Linked DNA regions of Homo sapiens: region 2 is linked to region 1. Evidence: fine-mapped expression QTL. A gene starts in region 1. The other region holds a variant in brackets. All regions are shown on one strand. Distances are from middle to middle.

Region 1 (4,385 bases):
GTGGCTAATGTTAGTCCTACAAAGGCAATCTAGTCCCCAGGCAAGTAGGAGGTTGGTGGGCAGGGTGCTGTGGTTCACTCCTGTAATACCACCACTCTGGGAGGCTGAGGCAGGCAGATCACAAGGTCAGGAGTTTGAGACCGGCCTGACCAACATGGTGAAAGCCCGTCTCTACTAAAAATAAAAAAATTAGCTGGGCACTCGCCTGTAATCCCAGCTACTCGGGAGGCTGAGGCAGGAGGGCAGGAGAATCACTTGAACCCAGGAGGTGGAGGTTGCAGTGAGCCAAGATCGTGCCACTGCACTCCAGCCTGGGCAACAGAGTAAGACTCCATCTCAAAACAAACAAACAAACAAAAAAACAAAAAAAACCTAAGGAAAAAAATAGCAAAAAGTAGCCAGGCGTGGTGGCACATGCCTGTAGTCACAGCTACTCAGAAGGCTGAGGTGGGAGGTTCACTTGAGGCCAGGTGATGATGCTGCAGACGGCTATGATTATGCCACTGCCCTCAAGCCTGGGGAACAGAGTGAGACTGTTTCAAGAAAAAAAAAATGGAAATAAAGTTTTTTGTGATTGGTTGATGTCTCAAGTCTGTTTTTTCTTCAAAATGTTTAACTGAAGTATAATATACATATAAAAGCTTGCAAATCATAAATGAATGTATGGCTCAACAAATTTCCCAATCTCTTTTAATCTATAGATTGACCATTCCCCTCTTTTTTTCCTTTGGAATTTGATAAAGAATATATTTGTCTTGTACCGTTTCCCACAGTCTGTACTTTGCCAATTGTTTTTCATGGTGTCATTTAGCATGTTCCTCTATTCTGTATTTCCTGTAAACTGGTGGTTGCATCTAGAAGTTCAGCAGGTCAGGTGAATTTTTTTTTTTTTTTTTTTTTTTGACACGGAGTCTTGCTGGAGTCCAGCCCAGGCTGGAGTGCAGGGCAGGTGGCGTGATCTTGCCTCACTGCAACCTCTGCCCAGGTTCAAGTGATTCTCCTGCCTCAGCCTCCCAAGTAGCTGGGATTACAGGCATCTGGCACCACACCCGGCTACTTTTTGTATTTTTAGTGGAGACGAGGTCTCACCGTGTTGACCAGGATGGTCTCAAACTCCTGACCTCAGGTGATCCACCCACCTAGGTCTCCCAGACTGTTGGGATTACAGGCGTGAGCCACCGCAACGGCGTTAAAGCGTCTTTTGAAGGTGGATGTGATTTTTTTTTTTTTTTTTGGGACGGAGTCTCGCTCTGTCGACCAGGCTGGGGTGCAGTGGCGCGATCTCGGCTCACTGCAAGCTCTGCCTCCAGGGTTCACGCCATTCTCCTGCCTCAGACTCCCAAGTAGCTGGGACTACAGGCGCCCGCCACCACGCCCGGCTAATCTGTTGTATTTTTAGTAGAGACAGGGATTTCACCGTGTTAGCCAGGATGGTCTCGATCTCCTGACCTCGTGATCCGCCCACCTCGGCCTCCCAAAGTGCTGAGATTACAGGCGTGAGCCACCGCGCCCGGCCGGTGGATGTGATTTCTACAAACAAGCAAAAGCCAGTCAGACTGAATGTAGTGAATAATGTAGGTGACCCAGCTGGAAGATGATGGTTTGACGTGGAACACAAGGGGTGATGAGGCCATGAATGATTTGCTTGTGTGTCTGGTAAACTGGCTTTGATGGAAATTCCTAAACAGGTCCAAAAACGTTCTGTCCAATGGCAGCATGAAATGTACAGCCACTCAGGGTGACTAATGTGAACGGAACAACAGTGACTTTGACAGTGAAATTGCATGTTGGTTATAAAACCAGCTTTGCTGTGTGGGTGGGCATGCGAGGTGCCCCTTTCTAGTCATGAGCTCCTCTTAAGGACCCCAAAATGTCTCAGTGGTACCGGATTGAAAATTGGGGCTGGACGGTGCTCTCCTGCTGAAATTCGGGAGCTACTTAGCAGCCCCACCTTGGCACCCTCGTTTCCGAGGGGCAGGCCCTGGGCGCGCGTCTCAGTTTCAAGCCCGCGGCCCGACACTAGAGCCGTCTGGATGTGTTGACAAGGATGCCGCTGGGCTCCACCCGGGCTCACCCGGGCCCTCCCGAGCCCTGGGCCGCGCAGCACCGGCGTCCGCCTCCTCCCCATTACTCGGCGAGAATGCGGTCGGGGCACTGGCGCGAGCAGCCTGGTGCTCCTGAACAGTCAACAAGAAATGAGGAAGCACGGGGGCAGCCGCCAGGGCGACCAGAGGCAGGCCTCAGAGCAGCAGCCATACGGGAGGGCCCCGGTGGTTTTGACCTCCCGCAAACTTCCCTTTTCCCGCTCAGCCGAACCCCTCCCCTGCACGCCGGCAGCCCCTTGGGGCTTCACTCCGCCTCCGCCCGCTACTCGCGAAGCCCAGCCCGGCCCCGCCCCCAACAAGTGACGCAAAACTGGGAGGGGCCACGAGGACCTCGGGCACATCCAGCAGTGCGACGGGGCCGGCGCCTTCTCCGAGCTCCTCCCACGCTCGCGGGTCGGAGCTCGCGCCTGCGCAGTTCGGGCCCCGGGTGTCCTCCCCCCTCCCCTTTCTTAGCAACCATCGCCCGCTCCCGCCCCCGCTCCCTCGGCCGCGGCCGCGCACGCGCGCCCCTCCCGGCGCCCGGCCCCGCCCACCCCGTCACCCGTAACAACCACAAGTGCCGTCGCCGCGCCCCTTCCCCCTCCCGCCTCCCCGGCCCCCTCCCCGGAACCGGCGGTCGAGCTACGGTCGCGGAGCAGTGGAACCGAGACTGCCCCGCGGAGCCGCCGGTATGAGCGCCCCTCGCCACCCCGTGTCCCAGGCCCGGCCTTTCTGACAAGAGGTAGGCGCGTCGTCGCGGCGGGTCCGAGTGCGCCCTCGCCCCGGTCCCGGTCTCCGTGGAGTCCGGCGCCTCTCGGGCGGGCCCCCCGGAACTCCCGGCCGCCCGCTTGCTGAGCCTGTCCCTCCCCAGCCCCGGCTGCCATCGGCCCGGCACCCGAAACGGGCCGTGCCCCCGCCCCCCTGCTCGCCCTCCGCCCCCCTGCTCGCCCCTCGCCGCCCCTCGCCCCCCTCCCCCGCCCCCACCCCCACCTCGCCAGGCTTCCAGTTCCCGGGAGCCGCTTTTTGCTGAGAGCGGAGTTTCGGGTCCGGAGCCAGTGCCCGCCCCTCTCTCCCGTCGGTCGGGGCTTTGGCCCCGTGGGGCTCAGCCGCGCGGGACCCCTGCTGAGCAGCCCCGGGCGCCGGCCGCCCCTCGAGCCTGCTCGGGATGCGTTCAGTGGGTCTGGCCTTTGGCTCCTGTTTAAACAGCGATTGTCATGCAATGGAGGCCGTCCGGCTCCTGGATGCCACTTGGTCGTTGTCACTCCGGATGCCCGCGTAGGGCGTTTATCTGGACCAGAGCATCGGCAGCTGAGACCTGGCTGTGGTTCACAAGCTCGTGAATTAGCAGGTTCTTAAGTGAGTGTAGCCAGTTCTGCCAGGCGGTGGAATCCTGAATGGATGTTACCGTTTCTTAAACGAGCATTACGCTTTTTTGCTTCTTCCCCCAACTCTTGTTTGTACCCGGTTATCGTCCTCATATCTGGGAGAGTACCCTAAAATTAATATTCCCAATTAAATTTTTAAAAGATGATTGGATTCCCACTGTGCACCAACACTGTAAGGTTTGCAAAAGAAAAAGAACGTGGTCCCAGCACATCAGGATGTGTCAGTCGCATAATCAAGATGAATATTAGAAAAGCTTCAAGTTGAGTTTGGAGAACTTGGGAGTTTGGCTCTCATTCTCATGGTTTTAGAGGTGGAAGTCTTTCAAGATCATCTCCCCGAAAACCTCATTTTACAGAGATGAAACTGAGTCCTAGGGAAGTCAAATGGCTTACTCGTGGTCACCCAGAGTCATTCCTTAGCCGTTTTCACACTGTCAGATGGCGATGTTTTCCACCATGACCTCTCCTCTGAGAGGTATGCCAGACATACCAGAGAAAGTTCCAAACCTGTTTAAACCTTAGTACTATAGATGGGAATTCTATACCAGGCGCCGTGACTCATGACTATAATCCTAGCACTTTGGGAGGCTGAAGTGGGCAGATCCCTTGAGCCCAGGAGTTTGAGACCAGCCTGGGCAACATGGGGAAACCTTCTACAAAAAATATATATGGTGGTGCGTGCCTGTGGTCCCAGCTACTTGGGAGGCTGAGGCAGGAGGATCACTTGAGCTTAGAAGGTGGAGGCTGCAGTGAGTGGAGATTGTGCCACTGTGTTCCACCTTGGGCAACAGAGAGACACCCTGTCTCAAAAAAAAAAAAAAAAAAAAAGGAATCTTGGAAGTTTCTGAAATAAAATACATCTTGGTAATTTGTCTCTCTCTTTTTTTTTTAACAGCTAGACTTCGGGCTCCTTGAG
Region 2 (4,385 bases), 22 kb before region 1:
TCTCACTATGTTGCCCAGGTTGGTCTCAAACTCCTGAGCTCAAGCATTCCTCCTGCCTCAGTCCCCCAAAGTGTTGGGATTATAGGGATGAGCCACCACACCCGGCTGACATACATATTTTTAAATGCTGTAAAAATTCACATTGATTTAAACGTTTTAGGGGTCTTTGCTGTTGCAAGAAATTTGTGTGCCTGAGGAATCCCTAAATAAGGCAGCCTGTTGTGAGAACTATAATAATGATGTGAGTAAAACCCGGAGCCAGAACCCAGAAGAAGGAGAAATTAATTCTGACCCTTAAATCTCGGTGTCACACAGAGGAAATGAACCGGGAAGGATGGTGTGGGATTGTGGAGGGCAGAGGTTGGGAGAAAAGACCTTCCAGTTGGAAGAGGCTCAAAGTAAAGTTCTGGAGTGGGAACTTGGGAGGAGGCACCTGCTCCTGTCTGAACAGAGAGCCATGTGACGGACCTGGTTTTCAGCCCCTGGCTCTTGGGGCAGAGTAAAACTGAAAGGCTCATATTTTTCATCATTGTTTGCATATTGTGTTTTACAAGTCTGAGAAGTAGTACAGACATAAATTTGCTACAAAGCCAATTTGGAATTTGAAGGGACATTTTTATCAGTAACAGGATGTTTGAACAAACTTGGAATTTCATGGACTTTTCCACAACCCTCTTTCATGTCTGTAAGGAGCTTACCTGGCAGGATGCTCTGGGGTAAGTGGGACTGTAGAAGTCCCCTGTCTCATCCACCACTGCAGCTGTGAGAGGGGGCTGGGGCCATGGGTGGGAGGATTTTTGGACCATGATTCCAGGCGGACACCCCATCTTTACAAAATTAAATGGTAAGCATCCTCTTCATTTGCTGTAATTGGCTGTCTCTGGTGTTAGTTGAGTTCCATTTACCCAACAGTTTTCCGTCTTTATCTATTCCCTGCAGTAAATGCAATGGAAGGCCGGGCGCAGTGGCTCATGCCTGTAATCCCAGCATTTTGGGAGGCCGAGGCGGGTGGATCACGTGAGGTCAGGAGTTCGAGACCAGCCTGGCCAACATGGTAAAACCCTGTCTCTACTAAAAATACAAAATTAGCCGGGCATGGTGACACATGCCTATAGTCCCAGCTACTTGGGAGGCTGAGGAGGGAGAATTGCTTGAACCCGAGAGGTGGAGGTTGCAGTGAGCCAAGATCGAGCCACTGCACTCCAGCCTGGGTGTCAGAGCGAGACTCTGTCTCAGAAAAGCAGAACAAAACAAAACAAAAAAAATGCAGCTGAAGTAAGCTCTACACAGAGGCACCGTTGGGGTGCACGTAGAAACCCAATCGACATCTTTCCAAGAGATTGGTATTTTAAAAAGAAATAATAAGCTATTCTCACAGGCCAAATGAATGTTTGACAGCCTAATCAATTGCCCTGAAGCTTTTAGACAGGGCTGATGAATTAGCATAACTTCACAGATCAACTCTTAGATGAGAATTTTCCCCATGGAGTTGGCCTGTCACCAATGAATTGCTCAAGAAAACCCAGCCCTACTGACCCTGGCCAGCTCCTGCAGGAAGAAATATTTGGTAGGCTTGAGGGATAAGAAAGTCTTTCATTCCAATGAAGTTGGGCAAAGGGGCTTCGTTTGGGGACCTTTTGGTCTTTGAGACTCCCTGAATATTATCTCCTGTGCCTCCTTCTTCGTTCCCACCACTTTAAGGGAGACTATGCAGAATGACAGAATGATTTGGCCTTTTGCAGTGGGCCTCCATGGGACCCAGCATGATAAGAAGGCCCTAAAAACAAGACTGCCCTGGTGGATCCCTCACCTCCCCCTACACAAGGCTGGCACTGAAGTTCTCTCGAACCTAGGACTGGGAGCCCAAGGCTTGGACGCCAAACAGCAAAGCTTCATCTAATCTCAGTCAGCTTCAGGGTCAACTGGACAGCGGGAATCATTTGATTTTTTCCATCTGGGCATACTGACTAGGCCATCAGGCCCACCTGGCTCATGCTGTTCATGCCAGTGTCCCAGTAGCTGGGAGCATGTGCTCAGAGCCATTAAGGGTGAGTGCGGCAGG[C/T]CGCACTGTGGAAGGGGCTGGAACAGCTTTTCCCTATCGTTTATCCTGAAGCCTTCTTACCTAGGCGGTCTTTCAAGGGTGCCCATGGCCACCTGGGCGTTGTCTCCGTCCTCCTTGAGGATTACAAATCAGTGATCTCTGAGTTTATCTCCCAGTCAGGTCCCTTCGGAGAGTGAAGGAGGCCTTGTTAATTACCACCTTCGTTCAGTAGGCACATATGGAGACTGTCCTGGGCCAAATGGAATGTATGTCACCCTAATTATAAAGGATGGAAAAGGGAACAAAGGTGACTCATTAATGAGACCTTGTAGTCTCCACCGAGTGGAGGACTGTCCCCGAGCCTCATACGTTCCAAGGGCAATGGACATGCTTCTGTTATGTAATATTCCAGATGCTGCCACGTCCAATGTACGGAGCACTCCAGTTGCTGGTCTGGGAATGCGCTTAACGTAAGGAAAGCCTCGGCCCCAACCAGAGAAGATCATGCTTTTTCTAAGTCAAGGTTATAATTATGCATTTCGACAGCCTCCTTCCTGTAATTGTTCAGATGTTCGTAGCAGGCGTGCATGCAGGCGGTGCACCTAGAAGCTGCTGTCAATCACCATCGCCTCTTTACAGCATTCCTCTCTGATTATGCAGGGAGCACAGGCTTTGACTGGCAAAGTGATCCCAAGAGGCTTAGCATGGGAAAGAAATAGCTAGTACTTTCCAGAAACCATCCCACCACCTTCAGCGGGATGAAGGAAGCCCTGGCTTTGCTGACTTCCCAAGAAGCATCCCAAAAGCTTGCTTAACATCTCAGAAAACAAACCTCTGCATGCATTGATGAAGGAAGAAAAATACAGCCTGTACAGGCCGGGTACAGTGGCTCATGTCTGTAATCCCAGCACTTTGGGAGGCCGAGACGGGTGGATTGCCTGAGCTCAGGAGTTTGAGACCAGCTTGGGTAACATAGTGAAACCCTGTCTCTACTAAAAATACAAAAATTAGCCGAGTGTGGGCATGCGCCTCTAATCTCAGCTACTTGGGAGGCTGAGACACGAGAACTGCTTGAATCTGGGGGGCAGAGGTTGCAGTGAGCCGAGATTGCGCCACTGCACTCCAGCCTGGGTGACAGAGTGAGACTCCATCCCAAAAAAAAAAAAAAAAAATACAGCCTGGACAATCACTGGGTCACCTGTCCTTAGGGATTACGGGCGAATTCCAGACTCTGTCCTACCCAGGAAGGAATACCTTTCAGGGGTTGGAAGGATGTTTCAAATCACACCTGGTCCTCATTGGCGTTAAATTAAACAAAGTTAGATGGAGGAGCACCATCAAGGAGCCGGTATCCCTGTGAAAGAGCAGACGTGGCTGTTGTCAAGGAGGTAATAAGCTCTCTGGCAGGATGAGAAGCAGTATTTATTTTATCCACCTACAGGATCAAAGAGTATGTATTTGATGAAATAATTTATGCTGAGTGAATGTGAAATATCATCTCTAATTGCAGGCAATTAATATTTTCACTGATAAGGAGAGGGCCCCAGGCTGGCTTGCCTCAAACGGCCCTTACACTCCAGCAGTTCATACTTCTATTATGTACATAATCCCTGGATTACATAAACCCACCTGCACTTAAACCTACCAGCTCCACCCACCCTTGCCAAAGCTGTCACTATGAGAAGAATTAGAACCTTCGCAAATACATTCTGAACCAATGCCACAGAAAAGGCAGCAGCTTGGAATGTCAGGAACAACTTCGGGAATCTGACCTTTGGGACATTCCCCAGGCTGCCCTGACCCTCAGTCTGGATTTGCCCTAAGAATACTTTCCCGTATTGCACTGAAAACATTTTCAGCTCATTTGTTATACTGCCTGAGAGCCCATCGACTGGAGATTAGACTGACAAACATCGTCTTAAAAATGTGAATCATGGCCAGGTGTGGTGGTGCACGCCTGTAAATCCCAGCACTTTGGGAGGCTGAGGTGAGCAGATCCCTTGAGCTCGGGAGTTCAAGACCAGCCTGAGCAACATAGTGAGACATCCTATCTTTAGAAATAAAAAATAAATTTAAAAAAAGTGAATCATGAAGTGCCCATTAGACATGTACATCTAGGCATGAAGCGTTCTAACCGCCTTGTTTTGCCACTCACGTAGGAGCTCAGCTAGGGATTTCCTGGAGCATGTCACAACCACAGTGCCATCACAGAGGGACGAGGACAGAGGTCTAGAACGTCGCTGTGTGTCTGCGTGTTCTACTCCCCAACTAGGGAATGCATCCACAACCTGAGGCTGCCCCGGAGTTTCTGATCCTTCTCTCCACATTCTTTTTTTTTTTTTTA

The links.
Region 2: its variant is fine-mapped to the expression of SEC14L1 in whole blood (TOPMed, PIP 0.92).

Annotation. Positions count from the first base shown.
Region 1 is chr17:77,138,282-77,142,666 of GRCh38, forward strand. It overlaps SEC14L1 (SEC14 like lipid binding 1), which reads left to right and starts at 2,688. Exons shown (of 17, transcript NM_001143998.2): 1 at 2,688-2,826; 2 at 4,365-4,385. It overlaps LOC105371901 (a long non-coding RNA gene), which reads right to left and starts at 3,158. Exons shown (of 5, transcript XR_934988.3): 1 at 3,075-3,158. RefSeq lists silencers at 1,972-2,181, 2,332-2,541, 2,552-3,001, 3,166-3,460.
Region 2 is chr17:77,116,113-77,120,497 of GRCh38, forward strand. It overlaps a transcript of SEC14L1 not described here. Among named protein-coding and RNA genes, the nearest start is that of SEC14L1, 23 kb to the right of the region's middle. The variant C/T (reference allele first, on the strand shown) is at 2,063.